7 linked regions of the Homo sapiens genome follow. The protein of the gene in region 1 purifies or fractionates together with the protein of each later gene. This does not show direct contact. Each region holds a gene or a part of one and is shown in the gene's direction. Other genes may lie near its edges.

Region 1 (4,372 bases):
TGACACATACAGTATCTCTTTAATTTGTTCACGTTTAACTTTGGTGACATAGAGATACACACCATCCCTAAAAAGTCTAAAGCCAGATATGATTTATATGGGCATATCTGTTACCTGACTTTCAGCCTTCCACATCATAATCCCCTGAATGCCCTCCCTACGTAGGATGATTGTCTCCTTTCTTGCAAACTTTCTAGGAATTGACACATGAGGCTACAAAGATGGTGTTGGCAGACCTAGGTTAATAAGATAATATTGACAGGACCTCATCATTATAATACTTGTGATTTAAGCTTTGAGTTGGGTCTGGATAAGTCCAAAATTTCTTCTGTTGCTTCATCCACACTTCATGAAAATTATTGGTTTCTCTGCTGGAATTTATGTGGGTCATGGATAAGTTGTGCATGGTAATAAATCCTTATGTTATATGGAGGCCCAGTAATTTGGAGGAAATACTAATACCTTTATTTGTTTTGGATCATAACCACTATGCTATACTTTGTTGAGTGACACTAAAATAACACTTATACCTTATTTTGGGTTCCAGGCTCCTGATCATATCAGTAGAGCTTGTGAACAGGCATCTCAGCCATGTTCTCCGTTTTGGTACGGCCGTGTAGTGTTTTTCCATCCATCTTCCCTCTTAGATCTTGTGAATGTGAACCATTGAAGGATTGTTTTTTTTTTCTCAGACCCAATGTCGTCGGAGTTGCTGATTGCATTTATTTTCTTACCAGCATGTATTTTTGTTTACTTTGCAAAGAAATGCTTATTTCTTTCTTTGAGTAATAAGCCATTATCTTGTTGCTAAGTTTATGTGACATCAGAAAGCACAGTTCAGTTTGCATCACTTAATCAGAAATGTGTGGACTTTTAATGATAATAATATGCAAAAAGTCATTAATGTCTAATCATTTATGCCAAAGGAGATTTGGGAAATATGGTCAAATTTGGTGAAGGTTTTGTAACTTCGGACAGGTCTTAAGCATATTTTGTTTTATGTTTATTTTATTCTTCACGCTGTTCTATCATATAGACTTAACTATGTGAAGCAAGAAGTTTTGGGTTTAACTAAATGAACTTCACTTGGCATCTATATGGAAATTAGATGGTAATGTACTTGAATTTCTAAATTAGTAGTTTTTAATATGGTCAATAGTATTAAAGCTTGGAAGCCTAGATTCTTTTCTTTTGACCCCAAGTGGAAAAGAAAGTCTTCCTTGTTTGTTTGCTTTTTTTTTCCTTGTGACTGTGAAAGCTAGAATAAAATTTCTGAAGATCATACCCTCAGAGTATCAGTAGCTCCTGAGTCCACAAAAACATAACTAAACATACATAACTTACAAAATTACCTCCTGGCCGGGCGCGGTGGCTCACACCTGTAATCCTAGCACTTTGGGAGGCCGAGGCGGGCGGATCACAAGGTCAAGAGATCGAGATCATCCTGACTAACATGGTGAAACCTCGTCTCTACTAAAAATACATGAATTAGCCGGGTGTGGTGGCACGCTCCTGTAGTCCCAGCTACTTAGGAGGCTGAGGCAGGAGAATCGCTTGAACCCTGAAGGCAGAGGTTGCAGTGAGCCGAGATCGCACCACTGCACTCCAGCCTGGCAATAGAGCGAGCCTCCGTCTCAAAAAAAAAAAAAAGAAAATTACTTCCTTTGCTATATTCCTTTTCTTTTTATAGGTGACTTCCATGAGCTATCAGTTTTTTAATAAACTCCCTGAGGGAAAATAGGCTTTCTTCCATTCTCATCTCTGGACTTCCTCTGTTGTTTTTTAATAGACATATTTACCACTAGATATTGTGTTTGCTTTTCAGCTCCATAGTCTTTTCTTCATTTATACACGTGACTCGACTCTGTCAGGCGCAGCTCTCATAAAGTAACACCAGGAGGAAATTACTTGTTGATGCTTTTGACTATTTGGGGGTCTTTTGTAATAAATTATTTTCTGTCGTAATTCAAAGCAGTGTAGCTGACAGGGATCATGTGTGCATGACGTGTGTGTATGTTTTTTTCTGGTAAACGTTGATGCACTAGTACATGCAGGGAGTACTTTTTTGGTTTAAACCTGTGGTTATTGTTTATAGCACTTGGTATTTTCAGAAAAGAGAAAAATAATCTTAAAATGTCTGGGATTTTAAAAAATTCATTTTAAGTATGCAGAACTCTATTGGAATACCACCTGGAGGTGCTACCTGTGGCCAAACCCTATCACTGTGCCACGTTAAGTGTCAAGCATTCTGTAGACATTTGTTTGTTTGACTGAAGGAGCTCATATGGAATTAGCACAAGTTGCTACCACCTGTGAATCTTTCTTGTTGGGAGAAATAGTTTGGCCACTTCATCTTTTACCACCAGGCCTTTTCTTGATATTGTTAATAAATTAACACCATTTCCTATTCTGCTCAGCTCTCATGCCGTCTTCCCTGACACTTCCAGCTGCCTCCATGGAAGTGGCGGTGGATAGTTGGAAGCCAGCAACAACCACAAGGATTCTTCAGGCTTGAAGCTATGTTGGGTCATGTTTACTTCTTATGGGAAGTAAGGGGTGCTGAGGACACACTTGGAAGTGAGATGTCCAGTGATGTTCACTCTTGAAATGTAGATGTAGCTCGTGAAAAGTGGTGGCATATTCATTTGTGGCAATGTGTGAGGCTCATCACTGGGGACACTGATTTGCATTTTAAAATAAACTTTATTGTAGGAAAGCTTTGGATTTACAGAACAATTACTGAGGCTGTGCAGAGTTCCTACATGCTCGATACTCAGTTTCTCCTACTAACATCTTATATTAACATGTTTGTCACCACCTTGAGGAGAGACTACCTATACAAATTATTTGGAATTCTGAACAACAGATGTGTTTCTCCCCCTTTATTTATCGAATCAGTTATTTGTATCAATGTGAACTCTTGATATCCACTTTGTACTTTGTCATCTGGTACTGTTTTAAGTATTGCTGCAGTTATTCCCTCTTTGGCTATTGAGGGATCTTTCAGTTGGCTCCTGTGTCCCTTTGACCTCCCCCACCGTGGTGTCTTTCTTTGAGCACCTCCTTGCTTTCTGGCACCGTGTGATGTTCCAGTCTTAGAATCGGCCATTTGTATAAGGATCGCTTTGCATGTTTCACAGCTTGCTTTGTAGGAGTTGTTCTGATCTCGTCGGCCTCATTTATTTAGAAATAATAATAGAATTTTAAAACAAATTTTATTTCCAAGGGCAAGTTGGCAAACTCTTTACCTTCCTTGAAGAGGTTTGTCAAGGAAAAGTAGATGAGAATAGAGGAAAAGAGAGAAGTGGACTATACCAATTTGGATTGGTTGAAAATTCTGGTGTGCAGCCAGCAGGACATACAACTGCTGCGGGCCAGGTTGCTAAGTGGCCCGACCTTTTCTTGTCTGAAGGTTTAAGTGATGCTCACCCACCGTCAGGGGATGAGGTAGTAGTTCTCCCAATATGTAATTCCTAGAGTTTTATGTGGAAGTCACTTTGTGTCCTTAACTTTGTTGGAATTAACAGAGCTGGAATTTAATTGACACGAAGAAAGATCCCTTTTCTTTTAGTTGTGGAGAGAGTTTATTCAGAATTCACATGGGGAACCTGGCAAGGCTGTTGTTAATGTTTTATCTAGTTCGGTGTATGCATAAAGGAATAACAATTTCAAAGTGATTGACTTGATGCCTTTAGGGCACATGAAGAAAATGCATTTAAAGACACAGTCTCCTTTTAGTTGTCATAGATTTTATTTTAACCCAGGCCACCTATTATATTTCATGCACACGTATTCTCATTTAAGTCCTGTTTAGAAAGTGCAGGTGACTTATGGTGTCGGTTAAAAAGTAATTCAGATAAAGCAAGTCTGAAACTGTATTCTCAATAGAGGAAAATGAAGAATCTATGCTTGCATCCAAATTCCAAATATGTGATTTATTATTTTTTTTATTTGCTCTTTCTCAAATAGCTGCATTTTGGGGGGAAAAGCCTGAAACTAAATAGTATTTATTGGAGATGAACATATGTAACAAGATTATTTTCTGTAAGAGTTGATCTGAGTTCTTTCTCTGCTCTATAGATTTATTGTAAAGCACTGAAGTTTACATTCATCAAAAGGTAGACTATGCAGACAGCTATGATTATTATTTTAAGGAATTTTCCTATGATTGTTATTTTTATTTGTTTCTAGGTTAAGAAGGCTTTTTTGCTCTGTAGCCTGGACGTACTTTGAAGCCCCTCCCCACGATGCTGTACGTGCACAATGGTTACTAGGCAATCCGTACATCAGGAGAAGGGACACTCTTCCATAAGGCAAGTTGCCTCAGGGTCATTGGTCATCTGTGTTGTTCCGGGGGAAAGCTCACTTAACT
Region 2 (3,500 bases), on another chromosome or scaffold:
GTTTTTGAGACCTAAGAAAGGAAAGGGTGAAGTTGTTCAGAATAGTCCTAATTTTGGGTCTGTGTTTAAATTCTTTTCAGCCTTAACATGTTCTGAGAATTCTTTTTAATAATGCACACTTTTGGACAACAGTTAAATATATAGCTTACATAAATTTATTGATTATAAATGTGAATAACTTTGTTTTTATTTTTTAAGGAACTAAAACAGAACCGAAGTCAGGAAATTGATGACCATCAACATGAAATGTCAGTACTGCAGAATGCACACCAACAGAAATTGACAGAAATAAGTCGACGACATCGAGAAGAATTAAGTGACTATGAAGAACGAATTGAAGAACTTGAAAATCTGTTACAACAAGGTTATTAGTTTTATTTCTTTATTATTATTATTTTTTTTGAGATGGAGTCTCCATCTGTTGCCCAGGCTGGAGTGCACTGGCGCGATCTCGGCTCACTGCAACCTCCGCCCCCCGGGTTCAAGCGATTCTCCTGCATCAGCCTCCCAAGTAGCTGGATTACAGGTGCCTGCCACCATGCCCAGCTAATTTTTGTATTTTTAGTAGCAATAGGGTTTCGCCATATTGGCCAGGCTGGTCCCAAACTCGTGATCTCGGGTGGTCCACCCACCTCGGCCTCCCAAAGTGCTAGGATTACAGGCATGAGCCACTGCACCTGGCCAGTTGATAGTTTTATTAATTTAACATATTAGATGACATAACTAAATGATAGACCTAGCATTCTAAGACCAGGACAGTGCTGTAAACTTGCCCTAAGTTATAAGGAAGTGTAAATGACTAGTTCTGCTTATCTGCCAGAAATTTGCAGTGGCACCTCTGCTTTTAAGATTCTGTGGCCGGGAGTGGTGGCTTATGGCTATAACCCCAGCATTTTGGGAGGCCAAGGTGTGTGGATCACTTGAGGCCAGGAGTTTGAGACCAGCCTGGCCAACATGGCGAAATCCCGTCTCTACTAAAAATACAAAAATTAGCTGGACGTGGTGGTGCTCGCCTGTGGTCCCAGCTACTCAGGAGGCTGAGGTGGGAGGATCACTTGAGCCCAGGAGGCAGAGGTTGCAGTGAGCCGAGATGGCACCACTGCCCTCCAGCCTGGGCAACAGAGTGAGACTCCATCTCAAAAAAAAAAAAAAAATTCTGTGAAAATGGAAATGTCCTTTTTACCTTTGTGGTAAATAGTTATAATTTATAGATTTCTTTGCATTGTTTGGTGATGATACTTTGGTAATAAATGATTAGAGATATTATCACTTTCTTTCAAACTAAGATACATAGGCCTTTATGTAGTTGATTCAAATATTTTCCCCCAACTTATTTATTTTAAAACACTTAGTTTATTATAGTAATTTAACTTTTAAGCTTTCCAAATTCTGAACTGTCTTATATCTCTTAGTTGTATATAGCAAACCGTTTATTTCTTGGTACTTGACATTTGATGTCATTGTTTTGTGTTTATGTTCTAGGTGGCTCTGGAGTTATAGAAACTGATCTCTCTAAAATCTATGAGATGCAAAAAACTATTCAAGTTCTACAAATAGAAAAAGTGGAGTCTACCAAAAAAATGGAACAACTTGAGGATAAAATAAAAGATATAAATAAAAAATTATCTTCTGCAGAAAATGACAGAGATATTTTGAGGAGAGAACAAGAACAGCTAAATGTGGAAAAGAGACAAATAATGGAAGAATGTGAAAACTTGAAATTGGAATGTAGTAAATTGCAGCCTTCTGCTGTGAAGCAAAGTGATACTATGACAGAAAAGGAAAGAATTCTTGCCCAGAGTGCATCAGTGGAAGAAGTGTTCAGACTACAACAAGCACTGTCTGGTATACAGTCTTTGGAACTTATTTCAGATTGCTGTTTCATTGCATAGTAGTTGTTTTTAGAGACAGATGCTTCACTAACTGAATACTTAGTGGAAATGGCATATTCCTGGAAATGACTGTGTGTCATTTGGGTAGAATTGTGTGGTTTGGATTCAGTGTAAGAGTTAATAGATTGCAAATAGGAATTTCCTATTAAAAAGGATTAGGTATTGCTATACTTTCTGTAACTCATCACAGCCCACATCCTCCAGTTAGGGAATACAGCCTTTCTTCTTCAAAGTCAGTTGTTACCTGTTTGAAACGATCTCCTATATCCAAGCAAAGCCCTGAGTGCTTAGAGCCATAGGTCTTCCACCATTTTCTATGCTCATGATGATATTTAGTTACTGTACCAGTATTCTGTGTTACAGAAAATTAGTACTAAATGAAATAGGCCAAACACCAGTAAATAAAATAAATTTTAAAGTAATTGTACTTACGTTTTAAAAAATAAGTTTACTTATTTAAAAAATAAATTTACTTACATAAGACTAATACATTTACTTACTTATCATATTGGGTGATCCAGATGAGTTTATGTGCTTAAAAGACAAACCCACTGCCTTAGTCCTTCCTCTTTTTTCTATTCCATTGACACAGAATTACTTCAGCCAGTCATAATTGCTTTTTGCCTATGTTAACTATGGCAGCTCTCTGAATGGAGCAGAATAGCGTAGTGGTTAAGGACATGACTGGGTTGGAATCGAGCTCTATCACTAATTAGCTGACCTTGGACAGGTTAACATCTCTATGCATTGGTTATTTCATCTATAGGGTTGGGATAATAATGGTATCTTCCTTGTAGTTTTAGTAATGAGGATTATATGAGTTACTTTCTGCCGCTCTTTAGGATAGTGTCTAGCCAATAGTAAATGTTGAAGAGTTAGCTTTTTTTTTGTTTGTTTTTTTGAGACAGAGTCTCGCTCTGTAGCTCAGACTGGAGTGCAGTGGCACGATCTCGGTTCACTGCAACCTCCACCTCCCGGGTTCAAGTGATGCTCCTCCCTCAGCCTCCCAAGTAGCTGGGACTACAAGCATGTGTCACCACGCCCAGCTAATTTTTGTATTTTTAGTAGAGACAGGGTTTCACCATGTTGGCCAGGATGATCTCGATCTCTTGACCTCATGATCTGCCCACCTTGGCCACCCAAAGTGCTGGGATTACAGGCGTGAGCCACCGCCCCCAGCTGAAGAGTTAGCTTTTAAAATTCTCTGTTCTCCATGATTCCTTCAATCTATTTTTTTCATTCTGCAGCCAGAATAATTTGTCAGAAATGCAAAGCAGGTTACTCCCCTGCATTTAGTACTTTATAGCTGCCTGTGAACTTCGGGATGATGTTTAAATTTCTTAGTTAGACATGATAATGTCTCTCATGATCTAGTTCCTGCCTATCTCTTCAGTTTCAACTATTCCCATGCTCCTGACATTCTAAACTTGAACCATATTGAATTTTCTATAGCTCCTTAAAGCAGCAATGTTACCTCTTCACTCTGTTACCCTTGCATTTTCTGCTTTCTCTGTGTGGAGTGTCTCTATGGCTCTTTTAGCCGACTCTCAGTATATTGATTCAGTGCAGGTATTAACCTCCACTGAGAAGTACCTAGCACTGCCACTT
Region 3 (4,372 bases), on another chromosome or scaffold:
CTCAAGAGGCTGAGGCAGGAGAATCACATGAACCCGGGAGGCAGAGGCTGCAGTGAGCTGAGAATCGCACCGCTGCACTCCAGCCTGGGCGACAGAGCAAGACTCTGTCTCAAAAAAAAAAAAAAAAGGAAATACTCTTTCCTTACTCATATCATACTCTTTTTTTTTTTTTTTTTTTAAGATCTTCTCATACAGTGCCTCCTTTATAATTTTTTCTCATGGTACCTTTTGTTCCTATGCTGTTACAGTTTTTACCATGCTTTCTTATGACTTTCTGTTCTATAGTTGGTTCCTTGACTAACCTCTCCAAGATTAGAGATTGGATCATTCATCTTTGTATCCCAGTAACCAAGTATGGTTGGTCTTCAGTAAATATGTGTTTAATGTTAAACAGTACACAATGAGATCAAGTGTCAATCATGCAAAATGTACTTGGCCCCATCTCACCTTTAAGAATATGTCAGATAAGTTGGGTGTGGTGGCTCATGCCTGTGATCCCAGCACTTTGGGAGGCCGAGACAGTAGATAAATTAAAGTCAGAAGAAATGTTAGAAGTTGAAAAGTTAGTGTTTCAAAATAAACTTCATTTTTGGAGCCAGTATGTTTTTTACCTATTGAAATATTAAACCTCTTTACTTTTTCCTTCTTTGTATCATCTGTCTTCCAAGCTTGGAAAACAAATTGACACTTGTGTAAAAAGTCATCAGTAACTAGAAAGTACCTGTAAATTTTTTGATACTCAGTAAATGGGAAACACAGCGTATCAGACTTCCACTTACTGGTATGCAAAGATGAGTTATTTTCTTGGCAAAATAAGTTTTATGGCAAAAATGACTACCTCAGAAGCTGAACATATTTACCATATCTGTCTACCTGCCTGATACTTTGCAGATGGTCAGTCTGGTCAGCCCGCTTTTTGTACATCCTATCAGAATGATGACCCATTAAATGCTTTGAAGAATAGCAACAACCATGATGTGCTTAGACAAGAAGACCAGGAAAATTTTTCCCAAATAAGTACCAGCATACAGAAAAAGGCCTTTAAAACAGCTGTACCCACTGAACAGAAGTGTGACATTGACATTACCTTTGAGTCCGTGCCTAATTTGAATGACTTTAACCAAAGAGGGAATTCTAATGCTGAATGTAATCCACATTGTGCTGAATTATACACCAATCAGATGTCCACTGAAACTGAAATGGCTATAGGGATTGAAAAGAACTCTTTGTCTTCAAATGTACCGAGTGAATCTCAGTTACAGCCTGATCAGCCTGATATACCAATAACTTCATTTGTTTCACTTGGTTGTGAAGCTAACAATGAAAACTTAATTCTCTCTGGGAAGAGTTCTCAACTTTTATCCCAAGATACTTCATTAACTGGAAAGCCATCTAAAAAAAGTCAATTTTGTGAAAATTCTAATGATACAGTAAAACTTAAAATTAATTTTCATGGTTCCAAGTCATCAGATTCTAGTGAAGTTCACAAGAGTAAAATAGAAATTAATGTGTTAGAACCAGTTATGTCACAGCTATCAAATTGCCAAGATAATTCTTGTCTTCAAAGTGAAATACTACCTGTGTCTGTTGAAAGTTCACATTTAAATGTATCTGGACAAGTAGAAATTCATCTTGGAGATTCGCTGTCTTCTACTAAACAACCATCTAATGATTCAGCATCTGTTGAGTTAAATCATACAGAAAATGAAGCTCAGGCATCCAAGTCTGAGAATTCACAGGAGCCTTCATCTTCTGTAAAAGAAGAGAATACTATTTTTCTCTCTTTAGGTGGAAATGCTAACTGTGAGAAAGTTGCACTGACGCCTCCAGAAGGCACTCCTGTAGAAAACAGTCACTCTCTTCCTCCAGAATCTGTGTGTTCTTCAGTGGGAGATTCTCACCCTGAGTCCCAAAATACTGATGATAAACCTTCTAGCAACAACTCAGCAGAGATAGATGCATCAAATATCGTCTCTCTCAAAGTTATCATTAGTGATGATCCATTTGTTTCCTCAGATACTGAACTTACCAGTGCTGTTTCTAGTATTAATGGAGAAAACCTGCCAACTATAATCTTGTCTTCTCCTACTAAATCACCTACTAAAAATGCAGAACTAGTTAAATGCCTATCTTCAGAAGAAACTGTAGGTGCTGTTGTATATGCCGAAGTAGGGGATTCAGCCTCAATGGAACAGAGTCTTTTAACATTCAAATCTGAAGACTCTGCAGTAAACAATACTCAGAATGAAGATGGCATTGCTTTTTCAGCTAATGTTACACCATGTGTTTCCAAGGATGGAGGATATATACAGTTGATGCCAGCCACAAGCACAGCTTTTGGCAATTCAAATAACATTCTGATAGCTACCTGTGTGACTGATCCAACAGCGTTAGGAACATCTGTAAGTCAGTCTAATGTAGTGGTGTTGCCTGGAAATTCTGCACCTATGACTGCTCAACCTCTACCACCTCAGTTACAGACACCACCAAGGTCAAACAGTGTATTTGCTGTCAACCAAGCTGTGTCACCAAACTTTTCACAAGGTAACTTTAATAACATAATTGAAATTTGTTTCTCTGGGTTGGGATCTAATTTCTTTTGTATGTGATGTTATTGACTGCGAAGTAATAACTAATGAGTAGATGGTATGAGAAAAGATTCTGAAATTTGTGATTACGCTGCTTCTTTATGCTAGCTAATTCAAACCTTTTTTATTTTTCTTAATCTGCTAGTAAGCTATGGGCTTTAGTGGTTTTTCTTTTTTCTTTTCACAAATACTTCTCAATCTATGTGCTAGTAAGTTACAATAAACAGAAAAGACAGACTAATTCATCACATAGTTGTATAAAACCCAATGTTGTGGGGGAGTTTTTAAAAATAGCTCTTATAGTCATGGTCTTCAGGGAATTCATCATCTTTTTGGAGAAATTTTCAAGAAAAACTTGAATTTCAGCCGGTTATGGTGGCTCACGCCTGTAATCCCAGCACTTTGGGAGGCCGAGGTGGGCCGATCGATCACCTGAGGTCAGGAGTTTGAGACCAGCCTCGAGAACATGGTGAAACCTCATTTCTACTAAAAATACAAAAAAATGAGCCAGGCATGGTGGCAGGTGCCTGTAATTACAGCTACTTGGGAGGCTGAGGCAGGAGAATCTCGTGAACCCAGGAGACAGAGGTTTCAGTGAGCCAAGATCATGCCATTGCACTTCAGCCTGGGCAACAAGAGCGAGACTCTGTCTCAAAAAAAAAAAAAAACTTGAATTTCTTCCTTTATAAAATCCTTTCTAATTGATCTCTGTCTTTAAAATCCTTTGTTTATGGCTGGGCTCAGTGGCTCATGACTGTAATCCCAGCACTTTGGGAGGCCGAGGCGGGCAGATCACCCGAGGTCAGGAGTTCAAGACCAGCCTGGCCAACATGGTGAAACCCCGTATCTACTAAAAATACAAAAATTGGCATGGTGGTGGGCACCTGTAATCCCAGCTGCTTGGGAGGCTGAGACAGAAGAATCTAAAGCTGGGAGGCAGAGGTTGCAGTGAGCCAAGATCGCACCACTGCACTTCAGCCTGGGTGACAGAGTAAGACTCTGTCTCCAAAAAAAAAAAAAAAAAAAAAAATCCTTTTTTCATAGGGGCTCTTGTGGCATTTATTGCGTGCTGTGTTATATGTAGTTAGTGATTGATATGCCTATCATATTGATAATTTTTTATTGTATGTTCCTCAGAGATAGTGCTCATGGCACATTTATTTACATTTCCTTATGTGTTGGTTCCCAAGCTTCCCTCTTTTCCCTTTTTGTTACATTATAGACATACAATAAAATTTCATTAAATATCAACAATTAGTATTAAACCTAATGGGTCTGTTTTACGTGCTGTTACAAATTACATAAAGGAGAGGTCAGAATTAATAGAGAATGTGGGGCTTGAGCTAAAGCTTAAAGAATGAAGGTAGGATTTGGAGTTAAAGCAAGGAAGTTTTTATAACTTATAAAATCTGTAAGTTATAAAGAGAAGCAGCACCAGCATAGACAGAGAGACCGTAGTAGGTTGCATGAAAATGAGGGGATCAACCTGACAGTAGTGTATTAGGCAAAAGTTTGTTTATGGACAGGACTAAATTACAGTAGCCACAAACTATGTTGTTGACTTCTGAGGACCATGTAGACATTGTAATTTTCCCTCCATAGTTTTGACCAGTTACGTGCTTACCTTACCCCCTTTTGATCAATACCATTGAGATATGTAATAGGTTGGGGTTACAAGTGTAGTCCTGGGTATAAATATTCAGTTGGGGTTGTAATTTTCTGGTGTAAGGTTCAGACTTGAAACATTCACCACTCATTTTCTAACTAGTTTCATTATTTCTAGA
Region 4 (4,372 bases), on another chromosome or scaffold:
GCACTGGGGCAGCCATGTCAACGCCTGGAAGAACTCATGTCGCCTGGCATCTCTCCTTAGTTAGGCTGACTCTGTAGTCTTTCGTGCAACAGACTATTTTTTGGTATTTGAAAAGTTGTTTAAAGTCCTGTCCATTCTGTGAACTCTTCTCTGGTGAATTTTTTTCTTATTTCCAGTTTTGCAAGAGGGCTAAGTTATGGTAGCTGCACCATATTGCCCGTTGCTATTATAGTCCCAGGTCCAGCATTCTCCCCCAGGAAAGCCACTACCCACACAGGTCACAAATGGGATTTTTGTATTTATTCACTGGCTGGCTGAATATAAGGTAGGAGGGCCTTTAATTTTGACTGTAAGATGGCCGGGCATGGTGGCTCATGCCTGTAATCCCAGCACTTTGGGAGGACAAGGTGGGCGGATCACCTGAGGTCAGGAGTTCGAGACCAGCCTGGCCAATATGATGAAACCCCATCTCTATTAAAAATACAAAAATCAGCCAGGCGTGGTGGCAGGCGCCTGTAATCCCAGCTGCTTGGGGGGCTGAGGCAGGAGAATCACTTGAACCCAGGCGGAGGTTGCAGTGAGCCGAGATTGGGCCACTGCACCCCAGCCTGGGCGACAGAAAGAGACTCTGTCTCAATTAAAAAAAAACACACACACGCATTTTGACCGTAAGAATTCTCAAATGTTTGTTTTATTATTTAAATTTTTTTCTTAGAAAATGATTGTAGGCAAGATGTTAATGAAACATCAATGTATTTCAAAGTTCTCTTCAGTTTTAAGTAGAACATTTGAAAAATTAAGCCAGTAAACCTAAATTGATTAGATAACCAGTAGATATGTCTCCCTCGGGGAAATGTATAGGGGCTTTTTTTTTTTTAACTTTGTGGTTTTTTAAAAGTTCTAAAATTTTTTCTACATTAAAAACACATTGCTCAAGTTCTACTCTGAAAAAAATCCACATTGCTCTTATAAGCTGGAAAAACTTCAGAGCATACTTTTTTTGGGGGGGAGGTGTGATACTTGCATAATAGAACATTACTTTTTTTTAATTTTATTATTATTATTTTTTTTGAGACAGAGTCTTGCTTTGTTGCCCAGGCTGGAGTGCAGTGGCGCGATCTCGGCTCACTGCAACCTCCTCTTGGGTTCAAGCGATTCTTCTGCCTCAGCCTCCTGAATAGCTGGGACTACAGGCGCCCACCACCATGCCTGGCTAATTTTTGTATTTTTAGTAGAGACGGGGTTTCACCATATTGGCCAGGCTGGTCTCAAACTCCTGACCTTGTGATCTGCCTGCCTTGGCCTCCCAAAGTGCTGGGATTACAGGCGTGAGCCACCACACCTGGCCAAACATTACTATTTTAAAGTGAATAACTCAGTGGCATTTGGCACGGTAATAATGTGGTGTGAGCACCGCTTCCATCTAGTTCTGTATGATCTTAATAAGAAACCCAAACAATGCATATTTGGAAACTGGTATCATTAATTGCTTCCACGTGGGTGAATCGGGGACTTTTCAGTTTACTCTTTTAAGTGTTTCATGTTTTATACCCCCTGAAGATGCCATCCATTACAATAAAACAAAATTCAGCCTCTGAGAGGGACGTTTCTTCCCCATACACCGCAGCAAACTTTCCCTCTCTCCCCATTGATAACGTTGTGGTCATATGGTGGCCTGAATAAAATACTTTTATTTCAACTTGCTGTTAAATGTGGTCTTTTGGGTTTTAAACTTAAAATCATTTCCAACTACAGTCAAAATTTAAATGTGGTGGCTCATGCCTATAATCCCTGTGCTTTGGGAGGCTGAAGCAGGGGGATCACTTGAGGCCAGGAGTTCCAAACCAGCCTTGGCCATATAGCAAGACCCTGTCTCTATGCAAAACAGACAAAATTAGCTGGGTGTATTGGCATGCACCTGTGGTCCTAACTACTTGGGAGGCTGAGGCAGGAGTATCACTGGAGCCCAGGAGTTCGAGGCTGCAGTGAGCTATGACGTGCCACTGCACTCCAGCCTGGGTGACAGAGTGAGATGCTGTCTCTTTACACACACACACATGTATATATTTATTTATTTTTGAGAGTCTCATACTGTCACCTAGGCTGGAGTGCAGTGGCAAGACTTCAGCTCACTGCAACCTCTGCCTCCTGGGTTCAAGCAATTCTTGTGCTTCAGCCTCCCAAGTAGCTGGCATTACAGGCACGTGCCACCACACCCGGCTAATTTTTGTATTTTTAGTAGAGAGGGGTTTCACCATGTTGGCCAGGCTGGTCTTGAACTCCTGACCTCAAGTTATCCACCTGCCTTGGCCTCCCAAAGTGCTGGGATTACAGGCGTGAACCACCATGCCCAGCAACTCCCCCCAAAAAATTTTTAATGTAAGTTTATACTTAAAGTGAAGTTTATAAATAGGTTTTGATTGCACTTGGGTAGGAAGGTATTATGTTATAGCTTGTAAGACTTTTTGGAGGCTTTGTAATCAACAGATTAAAGGATGATTGCCATTTGAGTTTTGGTGTAATGACATTTGACTGATGGGGGTGGAATTGTCAGCTTTGACTTCCCCGCTGCCTGTGTGTTTCTCACGGTCATTCTTACTCTCTTTGCAGCGAGGCTCTCTTCTTAGTGAGCCTGCAATCCAGGTGAGAAGAAAAGGAAAAGGAAAGCAGATTTGGTCTTTGGAAAAACTGGACAACAGGCTGTTGGATATGAGAGACCTTTATCAGGAGTGGAAAGAGTGTGAAGAAGATAACCCAGTAAGTTATTTAAGAGAAAATCACTTAATTGGTAATTATGGAAGGAGCCAAGCTGGAATGAGTCTACCCATTTCAGGGGAAAATTGTTCTTTTTCCAAAATTATAATCCTATTTCTGGAGTAAGGTTTATTTTAATCCCCTAAATTGTTTAGCAAATTAACAATTTTAATAATCTCTCTTTCTGGTATCTTCTTTTTTCTTCTCATTTCTGTCTTTTAGATTTCTAGCAGAATTCTCCACTTTCCATTCTGACTTCTGTTGGTGTGCGGGTGTCTGTCTCCTGTGCTCTCTGGGAACCTCTTTAGGACAGAGGCCAGGCCTCATTATTTGTCTCTCCTCCCATTGCTCAACCCGTTTAACCTTGCAGATAATAAACCTACAATATATGTTTTGTAAGTTGAACATCGGTGGTATCTTAATATTTACACTCCAAGGAGCATTTTTGAAGAAGTTTTGATCATAACATAAATGCCATAAATCTATACATTGGTACTCTGTCCTTAACTTGCAGGTTTTCTTACTTAGATCAGCCATGTACTCATACGTATTTAAAATAGAAGTGCATATTATGTATGTCTGAACATATTTTCATTACCGTTAGACCTGTTTCCGCATAGAGTTGTTTACTTCCTTTGCCTTTTGTTTTGTAAAAATGATTTTTCCAGATTGTTATCAATAAAAATGTTTCTTATAGTTAGGTGATGTTTTTGCTTAAAACATGTTTGTCTCTTTGGTACCCCTCTCCTATTTCAACTTAGAAATAAAACAACAGTAATAAATAATGAAAGAGCCACTCCCATAGGGGCTCACCTTTTTTTTTTTTTAGATGGAGTCTTGCTCTGTCATCCAGGCTGGAGTGCAGTGGCACGATCTTGGCTCACTGCCTCCTCTGCCTCCTGGGTTCAAGTGATTTTCCTGCCTCAGCCTCCCGAGTAGCTGGGATTACAGGCGCCCACCACCACACCTGGCTAATTTTTGTATTTTTATTAGAGACGGGATTTCACCATGTTGGGCAGGCTGGTCTCAAACTCTTGACCTCAGGTGACCCGCCTGCCTTGGCCTCCCAAAGTGCTGGGATTATAGGTGTGAGGGCTCACCTTTTATTAGCAGCAGTTTTATCTGATGACTTGCTAGGAATAAGCAGAGCAGATAAGAATTACTGTCTTTCCCAAAAGAAAGGTGAAGTGTAGTTTAGCACACTCTACTTCTTTTTCTGGTCAACATATATTGTTTATTTTGTGGCAAAATTTCCATGTAAAGGAGAATAGCTGATAAAAGTAATGACCTGTTACTGGGATCGCTCTGTCATGGGTGGAGGATGCTCACCTCCATTGTGAATGGGAATGAGGAAGAGTGTGTATGGGAGTAATACAGCGCTGTGCTTTAGCAAAAACTTTAGAATGTTTTACTCTAAAAAATACAAGAGTTAGGATGATGAAAGTTAAGTTTAATAACCTAGAGTGCATCAAAAAGCAGTAGGTTGAATGCATTTATTGTAAATGGTTTTTCTGAAGTTGTGTGTTCTCAATCTCTTTACAGGTAATACGATCATACTTCAAACGTGCTGATCCATTCTATGATGAGCAGGAAAATCACAGTCTCATTGGGGTGGCCA
Region 5 (4,372 bases), on another chromosome or scaffold:
TTTTAGCCAGCTGTGCTGCTTCTGGGTGAATGATAATGATAAATAACAAAATGCATGACCATCAGTGGAGAAAGGTAGTCTAAAGGCCCAGATTCAAAATTTAAAATACATGAGAAGTCTTTACCTTTTCTAGCAGATTAATTTAACTGGAATTCATTTATTGATGATGAGTGTTAACCTCCGTCTTATTGAAAAAGAAGTCTGCTTAAGTAACCTTTTGTCCTGCTTATCTATTTCAAAGTTGAACGTTAGCATCTTTTAGGGCTTTAAATGTGAAATTTAAGTATAATGGATAAAATGACTAATGATTTGTTTCATTTTCATTCAGGACACTGGTATTTCTTTTTCAGGGAACAGCCATGTTCTCTTACATTCGTTTGATTAATAAAGGTTAAAAACCCACCCTAACAGCATATAACTTAATTTTTTCCAACAGACTATTGATAACTGCTTAAGAGGGACAGTAACTGATTGTCTTGTATATGATGGTGGAAAAATTTTGAACATCAGATATCTCTGATTTCATTTTAAAGGCCATGAAGGCCCCTGAACTGAAGGAGAAGCTCGAAGAGTCTGAAAAGCTGATAAAAGAACTAACAGTGACTTGGGAAGAGAAGCTGAGAAAAACAGAAGAGATAGCACAGGTAGCTTGATAATTTAGCCCTAAAATATTGGGATTCTTTTTCACTTATTGTCTTTTCTGTGTAGTTTGCTGTCATCTTCAGAAAGTCTTTTTTTTTTTTTTTTTTGAGACGGAGTCTCACTCTGTCGCCCAGGCTGGGGTGCAGTGGCGTGATCTCGACTCACTGCAACCTCCACCTCCCGGGCTCAAGCAGTTCGCATGCCGTAGCCTCCCGAGTAGCTGGGATTACAGGTGCCTACTACCATGCCTGGCTAATTTTTATATTTTTAGTAGAGATGGGGTTTCACCATGTTGGCCAGGCTGGTCTCAAACTCCTGACCTCAGGTGATCTGCCAGCCGCAGCCTCCCAAAGTGCTGGGATTACAGGCATGAGCCACTGCACCCAGCCTCAGAAAGTCTTTTAAGGGCCCTTTTCTGCTGAACCAGAGATTGCAAAGATCACTTTTTTTTTTTTTTTTTTTTTTGAAGACAAGGTCTCCCTCTGTCACCCAGGCTGGAGTACAGCAGCTCAATCACAGCTCTCTTGCAGCCTCAACATCCTGGGCTCAAGTGATTCTCCTCCCTCAGTCCCCCCAAGTAGCTGGGACCACAGGCATGTGCTACCATGCCCAGCTAATTTTATCTATTTTGTGTAGAGCTGTGGTCTTATTTTGTTGCCCGGGCTGGTCTCAAACTCTGAGCTCAAGTGATTCTTCTGCCTCAGCTTCCCAGAGTGCTGGGGTTACAGGCATGAGCCACTGTGCCTCGCCCAGCAAAGATCACTTTTAGACATTGACGTCAGGTCTTTTTATCAATGTACAGTTTGGCCTGTATATTTGCTAGACGTGTTAGATAGCACTAAATTTGAACAAGCATGGTTACAGAAAATGTCATTCATATTTCCTGCTCTTCACATTTAAACGAAAGTCTGCCTTGTGATTTTTTTTTTTTTTTTTTTTTTTTTTTTTGCAGACAGAGTCTCTCTCTGTCGCCCAGGCTGGAGTGCAGTGGCGCAATCTCGGCTCACTGCAACCTCCGCCTCCTGGGTACAAGCGATTCTTCTGCCTCAGCCTCCCGAGCAGCTGGGACTAGAGGCTTGCGCCACCACTCCTGGCTAATTATTTTTGTACTTTAGTAGAGATGGGGTTTCACCGTGTTGCCCCAGCTGATCTCAAACTCCTGAGCTCAGGCAATCCACCCACCTTAGCCTCCCAAAGTGCTAGGATTACAAGTGTGAGCCACTGTGCCCAGCCTTGTTTTGTGATTTTTAGATCACCTGGCAAAGCATGAGGCTACCTGATTTTTATTTTATTTTATTTTATTTTTATTTATTTAATTTTTTATTGAGATGGAGTCTTGCTTTGTCACCCAGGCTGGAATGCAGTGGCGCAATCTTGGCTCACTGCAACCTCCGCCTCCCCAGTTCAAGCTATTCTCCTGCCTCAGCCTCCCAAATAGCTAGGACTATAGGTGTGTGCCACCACAACTGGCCAATTTTTGTATCTTTTGGTAGAGTCAGGGATTCACCATGTTGGCCAGGCTGGTCTCAAACTCCTGACCTCAGGTGATCCACCCGCCTTAGCCTCCCAAGAGGCTACCTAATTGACAGAGAATTTGTAACGTATAGCATATCATAATTTTTCAATGTATTTGATTCTTTGGGCTTGTTAGGAAATGCTGTATGTTTATATTTTAACTTTTACTTAAGTTAAAATATAAAGGAAGGACTAATTCTCGGGGTTATGTGCATTATGAATTTCTCTACATTATATATTTCACGAACATTTTTAATCTCATTGATCATTTGGAAATATTGGACCATCCCAATCACGTAGCTTAACAGCAGTCACTGGAACCCAGTCCAGCCTTCTGCTGATGTGTTTCTTATAGATATCGTTCACACCCACACATACCCCTACACCTCACTCACTGTCCCGCTTAACATTGCTTTATGTTTCTCCATAGTACTTAACACCATTGGAAATTCTATGTACCATATTGACTTAACTGTTTTCTTATGGCCTGTCTCCTCCCACCAGAATATAACTTTTCATGAAAGACGGGACTTCATTGGGTTCAGTGCTGTATTCCCAGCCCGAGATCAATACCTACTACATTGTAGACTCTAATAAATATATCTTGAATGAATGAATGAATGAGTGAATACAAGGCCTTCCGCAGTAGAGACCCAACCTTCTCTTCCAGCCTTAACTCTCACTGCTTTCTGATATTTGCCAGGGGTTCTTGGCCCCTGAAATCATCTAGTATGTCCAGAACCTTTCTTTAGTGTGCTTCCGTATGCCATGCCCCAAGAACACCCTATCTTTATATTTCTGTTGAAATTATTCTTATGCTTCAAGAACTATCTCAAATATATCCTCTTTCTGCAGCCTTTCTTGGTCTCTTAACCCATCATGATGTCTCTCCTGGGAAGCCCCTGGCATTTTGTACCCTTCAATAGCACAACACTCTCCTCTTTTGTGCTCTAGTTATGTGGTCTTGTTCCCTCTACTAGATTCTAAGCTCCTTAAGAGCCAAAATGGTGTCTGGTTCATCCTTGGTGCCCCTATCACGCCTGCCACAAGATGTCATGCACTGTAGACTCTCTGTTAATGTGGTTGAGCAGAGTAGCATGTGTAATCCCATTGGCATTGTCCCCAGAAACAGTGACTTACTCTTTCCGTGGATACATCTTGTGAATAGAACAACAAACAGAGTTTCCTTCTTTTGTCTGTTTTTGTGCACAGGAAAGACAACGACAACTTGAAAGCATGGGGATTTCCCTGGAGATGTCCGGTATCAAGGTGGGGGATGACAAATGCTACTTAGTCAATCTGAATGCAGACCCTGCTCTTAACGAACTTCTGGTTTATTATTTAAAGGTAGGAGAACATATAAATACATATGCAATCAAGATTCATTCCTATACAGTTCGTAGTTGAATCTGGGTGCCTGTCTCTGTGATGTTGCTTTTTGTATCCAGCTTAGCCCTCAGTAAAACTAAGATGGATAGTGCCCTCCGATCACCACTGAGAAGGAAAAACAGCTATTTTGTATCATCTGGGGCTGTGCAGTTGGGGCTGATCTCCTGTGAGTCCAGGCTTCAGAGTGGCATAAGTGGGCAACAGTAGGTGTCGAGGTGATGCCTAGCTTTATGAGAAGGCTCTAGGTGTGAGATGGTGAGGATTCTGGGAATATCTGTGTTCTTCCACAAAGCTCCTGAGAAGCTCTGGAGGTTCTTAGTTATGCTTCTGAGTAATTCCAAGGAGATCTCAAGATCAACACAAGCCTAAAGGAGACCCTCGTCCTAGATTAAATAGACAACAATGTTCTTCTAGGTCTATCCCTTGTAAACCCACATCCTCAGGAAATAACTTTTGGTCCCATAATCACCCTTCAGGTGTAGAGGTGGGATGGGGCCGCCCTGTTGCCACTGTGGTCGCAGGACATGCCACGTTGGATAGCTTACTGTAGCATTTCTCAAATTTTCTGACTTCAGAACCCATTTACACTCTTAAAAAAAGTATCAAGGACTCCAAAGAACTTTCATGTGTCTGGGTTATATCCGTGTTTACTGTATTGGACCCTAAGACTGAGAACATTTTAAACTACAAACATAAACGTACAACCCTTAGCCCTCAGGGCTATAACATCATTACATGTCTCATAGACTCTGGAAAATTCCACCAATACACACACACATGATAAAATGAGAGAGCAAAGGCAAACAACATGTTCATGTTTCTATTG
Region 6 (4,372 bases), on another chromosome or scaffold:
TGGAATCTGCTGAGCTGTGCATGTAAGATATTTTTTACTCTAAAGTGATCTGGCAAAGCGCATAAGGAGTTGACATTAAACTTTGGCATTTTAGGACTTAGGGATCATATCATCAGGTCTGTACTTGGAATAGTCAGTTTTTTACGTGACATATGATGCCACCAAAATTTGGAATACTGGGCCTGTAATAGACATTATTTATTAACTGCTTAATTGTTGGTACGTCAGCTTCCATTATCCTTACCTTTTTCTACTGTTTTCAGTGTGTGTGACTTTCTGATGCCCTCCATATTCCCCATCCTCGTAACAATTTGAATAATGTTTTCTGCTCATTTTTAATACTTACTAATCTACATTATCCCTGACAGCTTAAATTCAAATGTAGTCTATCACAGTCCTAACAAATGTGAACTTAGTGGCATTTTACCCATTTGAGTGTATGTTTGGAAGGCATAGTAGCTGCTTATAAATGAATGTGTATGGTAACTTTTTTCAGTATTCTTTACAGTTAACTCTGGTTAACATACTGTACACATTTAGCAGCATCAGAAAAGCACTAGACATAAATTTCAATGAAATAATAATCTTTTCATAGTTTGTACAAGGAGCACTACAGTTCCAGTATGTTTTTCTTTCGGCCTCTCACTTTAGTGCAGCATTCTACAAATCATTTCAGTGTGTCTCCATGTGTGTTAGTTGGAAGCATAAGATTCCTCTTCCTAAGAATAAGAGAAGTTTTTTAAAGCTTTTGGTAAATCTTTCCTTAGAAGTGAATCACCTTTGTTTTTCCCCTCAGTGGAGTGGAATGCAAAATTAAATGTTAGAGTTATGGAACCCGATCCTAATTCAGAGAATATTGCTGCAATCTCTCAGTCTTCAGTGGGTTCAGACTGTAAGTACAAACCACACTTTGTAGTAAGAGAACATCTATGACCTAAGTTTTCTTCTTAATATAATTTGAGCCAAACTTGCCTTCACATCAGATGTTAATTGGAAGCCATTTTGCTTGAGGCACGGCCCTTCTTTGCCCCAACACTTTGTCATTGTGTGCGTCCATACTTAGTTCTAGGAGAGCTCCAATATGTTTCTTATTTTTCCACAAGCCAATTCGTACTCAATCTTTAAAATTCAAGAGATTTCACCAGTTTGACATATTTCCAACTGCCCCTGAGAAGCTTTAATTGGTCATCCTCTATGTTCTTGAAGCAGTTTCTACATATCTCATTTCTAGTACTTACAGACAAAATACTACTGTAATAATATTTTGGTTTCTGTCTTCTGCAGTGGGCCCTGGCCTCTGGAGCACGAATTCTTCTTTCTGTTTTTCATCCTCATAGCCCTCATTCCTAACCTGCCTGGCCCATAGTAGGAACACAGTAGATACCTCTTGAATCAAAGCCTAAAACAGTCATGACTTGGGCCAGTTACTCAATGGGGTGAGTCCCAGGATTAGTGTGATCTGCCAGTCTGAGGCTAGAACTAACCTTTTCAGGCAAAATGTTATTGTTTCTTTGTTTTTTCCCTCTAGTGTTTGTATTTAAACCTAGTGAGCCAAGGCCATTGTATATTCAAAAGGGTATCTCCAGAGAGAAAGTCCAGTGGGGAGTGTTTGTTCCACGAGATGTCCCTGAATCCTTCACCTCAGAAGCTTACCAGTGGCTAAATAGATCCCAGTTTTACTTCCTAACAAAATCACAGGTAACTGCCTCCCTCAAAAAAGGCGATCACTTTGTACATGGAATTTTAGACTAATAGCCCATGACTATTGGTGTGAGTTTGTTTCTAGGTGAAACAGCTTCATTAAAGGATTATTTCCCAAAAAATTGTCTAATATGCTCAGTACAGCAGCATTATTAATGTAAATGTATTACCGTTTTACCCCACACTTTTGAGGTTCCTTAGGTATTGCTTGTATTAACTCTGTGACAGCAAAAAAGCAGAAGACAACTAAAATACTTTAAATTGCATGATTCTTTTTTCTTTTTCTTTTTTTTTTCAGTGTTTGATTTGCAATTTTTAAAATGGTGGCTTGAGTTTTGTCTGTCAGTTATATTTTTTATTCATTACCATTTCTTAAGTATCTCTCAGACATAATCTTGTAACTCTCATCGTGGTTATTAAATAGGTTTAAATCTTTTATTCCTTTTCTGTTGTCAAATATATATATCAAAGTGAAAAATTTGACCTTCTCATTTTTTAACACCCTGTAACACCTTGTTTAGATTTGCACTCTACAGTTTGTCTTTTGCATCATTAATTCTCTCTTTTCAGAGTTTATTGACATTCAGTACAAAGTCTCCAGAAGAAAAACTCACACCAACAAGCAAACAGGTATGTTTTAGCCATTCATAGCAGGATGTATTGCCTCCCTAAAAGGATACAATTACCTTTTAGAAGTCAACTATGAAAAAAATATTTCACTTGGCCCTAAAATAGAATTAAAAGCCATATACTTATAAACTGATATGTGTCTCTTGAAAGTTTTAGTGCTCTTTTAAAATTATTTTAATTTATAATATCAGTAATATATAATTCTGATTTAAAGAGTCAAATATTTTTACAAGGCTCTTCAGAAAAAACTTCTCCAACACCACTACCATTACCCACAAAGACAATCACTCTCAAATCTTTTAGCTGAAGTTTTTATTTAACTCTGAATCTCTAAGAAATCTCTAAGAAATGTTTATATTTCTAATTATAGGTTTTTCAGATTTAGGTATTATCTGTTAACTCTGATCTATTGACGCTGAATTTTTAGCTGTTTTTCACATCAGCACTCCCTGCATATACACAACACACACTTTCCCTACTTGTCCCCCAATTTTCCCCATATGGGTAAATGTTAAATTGGTTAGTTCAGTAGTCATTGTCATAGCTGTGTTAACACAATTCATAGCCAAGCCATGTAGTAATAGGCAGATTGTTTTTCCTTTTGTGACCAAGTTTTTATTTTCTGTGGAGTTAATGATTGCCTTGTTTTTTCATTTGCTTAGTTTTCTATTCTCATGTAATTCAACCCCAAATTCTGCTCAAGTTGTGTAAGTATTCTCTCAGTGTTTTCAGATACATTAGGTATTCTTTCAAGTCATAAAGGATTATTTCCAAGAGCCTTCTGACTGTCTTCAGTCTGGACTGATTGCTCTGGAAACCTGCTACACAGTAGTCATCCTAGGATCTATATTCACCATCATTCTGGGGATTTGTTTGACCTCTACTCTATTAGTGGTGTGGTTTTTCTCTTTCTTTGGTCACTCCCCTGTTTTGGTGAAGCATTCTTTTAGTGCATTGGAGGTCAATTTAAGACCTTGCATGTTTGGAAATGTTTTTATTCTCTTTCACTTGATTATTATAGAGTTGTAGGTTGAAAATCATTCTCGCAGAACTTTGACATTATTGTCCTATTATTTTATAATTTCCATTATTACTAGAAGACCAATACCATTCTTGTTCTTGTTCCTTTGTCTGTAACTTGGCTTGTTTATTTTCCTTTAAAACTCATTGGATTAATTCAATAATTTTTTGTTAATTATTTACTGTACGCCAGGGACCATTGTAGACAGTTGGGATACAGTAGTGAGAAAAGTAGTCAAGTCTCTAAACTTGCGGTATTCACAGTCCACCAGAAGATAGAGACAGTAAACAACATGCATTAAGTAAAATATGGAGTAGAGAAGGTGGTAAGAATTGTGGTGGGGTAGAGAATAGACGAAAAGATGGCATGCATGGGATGCAGCTTGTAATTTTAAACAGGGAAGTCTACGTAGGCCTTATTGAAAAGATTCTGACTTTTTCTCTGAGTTACATATAGGGCCCCTTGGAGAGTTTTGAGTAGAGAACTAAGGAGGAGCTAATTACTTCTTTCTCTATTCTTTTTCTAGAACTCCTATTATTTAGTGCTGGACTTTCTAGAATGGTTCTCTATTATTCTTATTGTTTTGCCTATTTTTTGTTTGTTTTCTGGAAGATTTCCTCATCTTTATCATCAAATCTTTTTTTCTTTTTCATGGTCTGTTTCCATTACATTTTTTTTTGTTTTTGGTTTGTCTTGGTTGCTGCCTTTCATCTAGAGGTTTTCATCAGAGTCTGATGATTCTTGGCTGTCTTTGGATTTAAAAGTGGGTTAAAAAGCCACTTGGAAGTTCTCTGCCTGTGCAGAACTTATCCCTTGGCTTCCACTATCTGAGCTAATTTATTGAGACAGTCTCAAATGTCATTACAATTGACCCTTGAACAATGTAGAGATTGAAAACCTATGTATAACTTTTGACTTCCCAAAACTTAACCTGAAGCCTTACTGATAACAGTTATTTGTATTATATGTATTATATACTGTATTCTTACAATAAAGTATGCTAGAGGAAAAAAAAAAGTT
Region 7 (4,372 bases), on another chromosome or scaffold:
AAGCTGGCCCAGTTGTGGGAGTACAGTGAGTTCTAGTAAAGTAGAAGCGTAGTGACATCCTGAGTGTAGAAGGGGAAAATGTCATAGTAGCTTCATATGTGGCACTTAGTATTCCTTTATGAAAGATGAATCAAACATGCTTTTAAGCTCTTGGCCTTTCCCTACATGGGTTTTGTGAGACAGAGTTAAACTCTGCAGAAAATGATTTGAATGACTGTTCTCAGTTTTCCCTGAGAGGGTACCTACCTAGTTGGCTGTAGATGCAGAGAGAGAAATGAGTTCCTTACACACAGTGGGTGCCTTAGGCTTAGGGCATAATCTTCTCTGGGAGCCTTGATTGAGAGGGGCTGGTAGGTAATGTGGCTTAAATGTTGCTCATTAGTTTTGCTCTTTCTTTTTTTCCAAATTCAGCTAAGGAGTATAACAAGTTTTACGCTCTCTCTCTCTTTTTTTCTTGTATGTTCTCTGGAACATGGAATAAAAAGGACAAAAAATTGGCAACCTGAGGAAGAGGACAGACAAGGGGCATGAACAAGCCACAACCTCTAAGTGACAATATCTGTAGTCAGCGGTTAGGATCAAATATTTTAACATTGCTTTCACTTACAGTCAATGGTGAAACATTTCCAAAACAATTTATTTTAGTTAGAACTTCGGTTTGTTTCTATTTTGATCTAGCAATAAAACATGTAAGAAACATTCCCTGCAGCTTTGTTTATAAAGAGAAAAACTAAAAGTCTGACATTGGGGGATTGGTTAAATAAATCAGGAGCTGTTACGTAGGCATTGAAAACTAGGACAGTATGTATAGGGTGGTTCCAGTTACGTTTATATAAATATTTACACATTTTACATAGGAAAACACCATTGTTTTAAAAGTACACAATTTTATTATTTTACCTAAAAGTTTGTAAAATTGGATGGGATTTTTTTTTTTCCAAAAAAAGCTATTGATAAAACTTATTTTAATTTTAACGAAAATTGGAATGTTACTTTAATTGCAAAACACTTTCTGAGCCTGAAAAATGGCTCTTGGCTGGTTTGAATGCCGGTTAGGCAGGTTTATTTCTTGGTTACTTCAGAGCTGATATATATAATTTATTCAAACAACCATCTTCCAGTTGATTTCCTTCCCCCCCCCAAAGGTTTTATTTAATCTTCATTTGTTATAAGATACAGGGAGAGGAGAGAAATTCAGATCATCCTTTTTTTGTCTTTAACTAAATCTGTTTTTACTAACAGCAGTAAAATATTTGTTGGAAAAATGGAAGCTTAACCTGTCTAGACTGTGACCTATACCATAAAATGTGTGGTCTAGGACTGTTGTGGAGTGTCTTGGGCTGTTCAGGGAGGTTTCCTTGTACTAAGATCTTGTTAAATCTGATTCTAAGAATTGCATTATGTTGAAATTTTTGTTTCTTGGCTAAGGTGATGTTTCTGAGATACCTGTATTTTATCTCTAGATACTATTAGCTTTTATTAGCAGAACTACTGAGATTTTATTGTAATATTTTAAAAAGTGGTGGATCCAGTATCGTTTTTATAGGCTTATTTGCAGGATAATAGTAAGATTAGAAAATTCATTAGGATAATATATTTATAATTGAGTGCCTCATGTAGTTCTCACTTGGAATTTTGGAATAGCTTATACTTCCTGATATAGATCCTTGGGGAATTAAATGCATTAAGAGTAAATATTTTAAATTTTTTATAAAGCAGAACAGCTAATTTAACTTAATGGAGGGTTTTCATATTTCTTGTGATAAACTAAACTGCACATAGTTTAAAGAACTGTCAGCCACGTAGGCCATATAACAGCTATTCTTTCCAAGCCTAGAATCCATGCCATAGAATTTATGTAACAAATATTTAATGAGTATCTACTACATGCCAGGCATGTTCTGCTGAGTGTGCAGTAATGAACAAAATACAGCAAGTTCTTTCTTTCATGGTTACACTCTAGGGGTGAAGGCATGCAGTTACATAGCCTTACCTTGGGTGTTTGGTAGGTAAGGCTAAGTAGAAAAACAGGAAGGTAAGAGGCGTGTAGAGAATGAGGGATGTGAGTGGAGGGATGGTGTCTTCTGTAAGCCATCAGAGAGGGCTTCTCTGTTAGGTTCCATTTGAGCAGAAACTTGAAATAAGTGGGGAGTGAGCTGTGTGGATATATGGAGGATATTTTAGAGAAGAGCTTTCTAGCCAGTATGAGAGCAGTACCAGATCATTGTAAGAGTTTTGGTTTTCATATTTGTGAGATGGGAAACGATTGGAATGTGTTTTGAGGCTGATCTTAAATTATATCCATTTGTCATGCATATGTGAAGAAATGGACGGATGGAATTACATTATAGGGAGCAACTCTGTGTGCCACGCATTGTGATAGATGTTTACAGATCCGATCTTAGAATTTTCATTAATACTGTTTATTTTTCAGATGAACAGTTTGTTTCTAGTTTTTGCCTGGAACTTTCTCATGGCGTGTTTGTGTCTTCAGTTCCACTTAGAATGCTTTTTCTAAGGTGGTTATACCAGTTTACCGCTTGCTAGCAGTGGACAGAAGTTCTCCCTGCTTCAGTCTTTACCACCATGTGTCTTTTCATATTTGCTAGCCAATCTAGTGATGAGTAATGAGGTTGATGACCTTTTCAGATGTTTATTGGCTACTTGGATTTTTGTGTTTTGTTTTTGTGAAATACCTGCTCATCTGTTAACTACTTTCTATTGGGATGTTAGTTATATTCTAATTGATTCATAGTAATGACTGCCTTTCCAATTATATATTGTAAGTTTCTTCCCTGGTCTGTGGCTTGACTTGGAGCACTTACAGTGGTGTCTGTCCTTTGATCAACAGACATTTTTAATTTTAACAATTGTTTCCTTCATGGTTAGTGTTTTTTGTCTTATTTTTAAGAGGTCTTTCTTACTACTTTTCTGAAGATATCCTCTTATATTGTCTAATAGAAGCTTTACTGCTTTGCTTTTCACATTGAGAATCTACATTCTACCTGGAATTGGCTTTGTATATGGGGGAGATTGAGGTCAGGTTTCATTTTTACTGTATGGATACCTAGTTGTCCCATCAGCATTTATTGGAAAGAGTGTCATGTCTCCACCGCATTGTCATCTTTGTCATAAATCAGGTGACTGTGTAAGTAGATCAGTTTCTTGACTGTTCTGTTGGCTTGTCTGTTCTTGCAGCAAACCTACACTGTCTAAATCATTATGACTTTGTGTTATCTTGGTACCTGGTACATGGTGGTGTAGTTTTAGTTGTGGTTCCTCAAGATTGCCTTTATTTTCTCCTTTCCAGTCCGTATGCTGTTTCTTTCTTTTTCTTGCTTTTGATACTGGCCAGTTCAAGTGCTGGTAGTGGGCATCAGGGGTCAACTTTTAAACATTTACCATTAAGTGTGGTATTTACTGTGAGTAATTTTTGTATTTGCTTTTATCAGATTAAGGAAATTTCCTTATATTCCAAGTTTGCTATGAGTTTTTATGAGTGGGTGTTGAATTTTAGAAATGCTTTTTCTAAATTGATTTAATTATGGTAATTTATTGAAAAGAGTATATTTGTTCTGTAAGTTCTGTAACTTCAATAAGTAATGTTGAAGTTACTTTTTTTTGCCTTCAAGCATCTGTTTAACAAAGCACATCTTGCACCACCCTTAATCCATTTAACCCTGAGTGGACACAGCACATGTTTCAGAGAGCACGGGGCTGGGGGTAAGGTTATAGATTAACAGCATCCCAAGGCAGAAGAATTTTTCTTAGTACAGAACAAAATGTAGTCTCCTATGTCTACTTCTTTCCACACAGACAGCAACAATCCGATTCCTTTATCTTTTCCCCACATTTCCCCCTTTTCTATTCGACAAAACCGCCATCGTCATCATGGCCTGTTCTCAGTGAGCTGTTGGGTACACCTGCCACACGGGGTGGCGGCCAGGCAGAGGGAGTCCTCACTTCCCAGAAGGGGCGGCCGGGCAGAGGCACCCCCCACCTCCCAGACGGGACCGCGGCCGGGCGGAGGCGCCCCCCACCTCCCGGACGGGGCGGCTGGCCAGGCGGGGGCTGCCCCCCGCCTCCCTCCCGGACGGGGCAGCTGGCCGGGCGGGGGCTGCCCCCCGCCTCCCGGACGGGGCTTCTGCCGGGCGGAGACGCTCCTCACTTCCCAGACGGGGCAGCTGCCGGGCGGAGGGGCTCCTCACCTCCCAGATGGGGCGGCTGTGGGGCAGAGGGGGCTCCTGACTTCCCAGATGGGGCGGCTGCCGGGCGGAGGGGCTCCTCACTTTTCAGACGGGGCGGCCGGGCAGAGACGCTCCTCATCTCCCAGACGGGGTCGTGGCCGGGCAGAGGCGCTCCCCACATCCCA

Evidence for each region.
Region 2: the proteins of ASB7 (region 1) and TRIP11 purify together in Homo sapiens (affinity purification with mass spectrometry; 2 studies listed by BioGRID and IntAct, with this or other methods). This does not show direct contact.
Region 3: the proteins of ASB7 (region 1) and NPAT purify together in Homo sapiens (affinity purification with mass spectrometry; 2 studies listed by BioGRID and IntAct, with this or other methods). This does not show direct contact.
Region 4: the proteins of ASB7 (region 1) and KIF13B purify together in Homo sapiens (affinity purification with mass spectrometry; 2 studies listed by BioGRID and IntAct, with this or other methods). This does not show direct contact.
Region 5: the proteins of ASB7 (region 1) and KIF13A purify together in Homo sapiens (affinity purification with mass spectrometry; 2 studies listed by BioGRID and IntAct, with this or other methods). This does not show direct contact.
Region 6: the proteins of ASB7 (region 1) and WDR75 purify together in Homo sapiens (affinity purification with mass spectrometry; 2 studies listed by BioGRID and IntAct, with this or other methods). This does not show direct contact.
Region 7: the proteins of ASB7 (region 1) and URI1 purify together in Homo sapiens (affinity purification with mass spectrometry; 2 studies listed by BioGRID and IntAct, with this or other methods). This does not show direct contact.

What each region holds. Positions count from the first base shown.
Region 1 is NC_000015.10:100,605,516-100,609,887, forward strand, and holds part of ASB7 (ankyrin repeat and SOCS box protein 7), read left to right. Parts: intron 1-4,191; 5' UTR 4,192-4,313; intron 4,314-4,372. UniProt on the Homo sapiens protein: Probable substrate-recognition component of a SCF-like ECS (Elongin-Cullin-SOCS-box protein) E3 ubiquitin-protein ligase complex which mediates the ubiquitination and subsequent proteasomal degradation of target proteins.
Region 2 is NC_000014.9:92,012,560-92,016,059, reverse strand, and holds part of TRIP11 (thyroid receptor-interacting protein 11), read left to right. Parts: intron 1-198; coding exon 199-364; intron 365-1,482; coding exon 1,483-1,845; intron 1,846-3,500.
Region 3 is NC_000011.10:108,170,371-108,174,742, reverse strand, and holds part of NPAT (protein NPAT), read left to right. Parts: intron 1-891; coding exon 892-2,544; intron 2,545-4,372. UniProt on the Homo sapiens protein: Required for progression through the G1 and S phases of the cell cycle and for S phase entry. Activates transcription of the histone H2A, histone H2B, histone H3 and histone H4 genes in conjunction with MIZF.
Region 4 is NC_000008.11:29,140,542-29,144,913, reverse strand, and holds part of KIF13B (kinesin-like protein KIF13B), read left to right. Parts: intron 1-2,610; coding exon 2,611-2,757; intron 2,758-4,296; coding exon 4,297-4,372. UniProt on the Homo sapiens protein: Involved in reorganization of the cortical cytoskeleton. Regulates axon formation by promoting the formation of extra axons. May be functionally important for the intracellular trafficking of MAGUKs and associated protein complexes.
Region 5 is NC_000006.12:17,830,233-17,834,604, reverse strand, and holds part of KIF13A (kinesin-like protein KIF13A), read left to right. Parts: intron 1-533; coding exon 534-644; intron 645-3,369; coding exon 3,370-3,504; intron 3,505-4,372. UniProt on the Homo sapiens protein: Plus end-directed microtubule-dependent motor protein involved in intracellular transport and regulating various processes such as mannose-6-phosphate receptor (M6PR) transport to the plasma membrane, endosomal sorting during melanosome biogenesis and cytokinesis.
Region 6 is NC_000002.12:189,468,548-189,472,919, forward strand, and holds part of WDR75 (WD repeat-containing protein 75), read left to right. Parts: coding exon 1-22; intron 23-796; coding exon 797-892; intron 893-1,528; coding exon 1,529-1,698; intron 1,699-2,271; coding exon 2,272-2,331; intron 2,332-4,372. UniProt on the Homo sapiens protein: Ribosome biogenesis factor. Part of the small subunit (SSU) processome, first precursor of the small eukaryotic ribosomal subunit.
Region 7 is NC_000019.10:29,944,936-29,949,307, forward strand, and holds part of URI1 (unconventional prefoldin RPB5 interactor 1), read left to right. Parts: intron 1-4,372. UniProt on the Homo sapiens protein: Involved in gene transcription regulation. Acts as a transcriptional repressor in concert with the corepressor UXT to regulate androgen receptor (AR) transcription.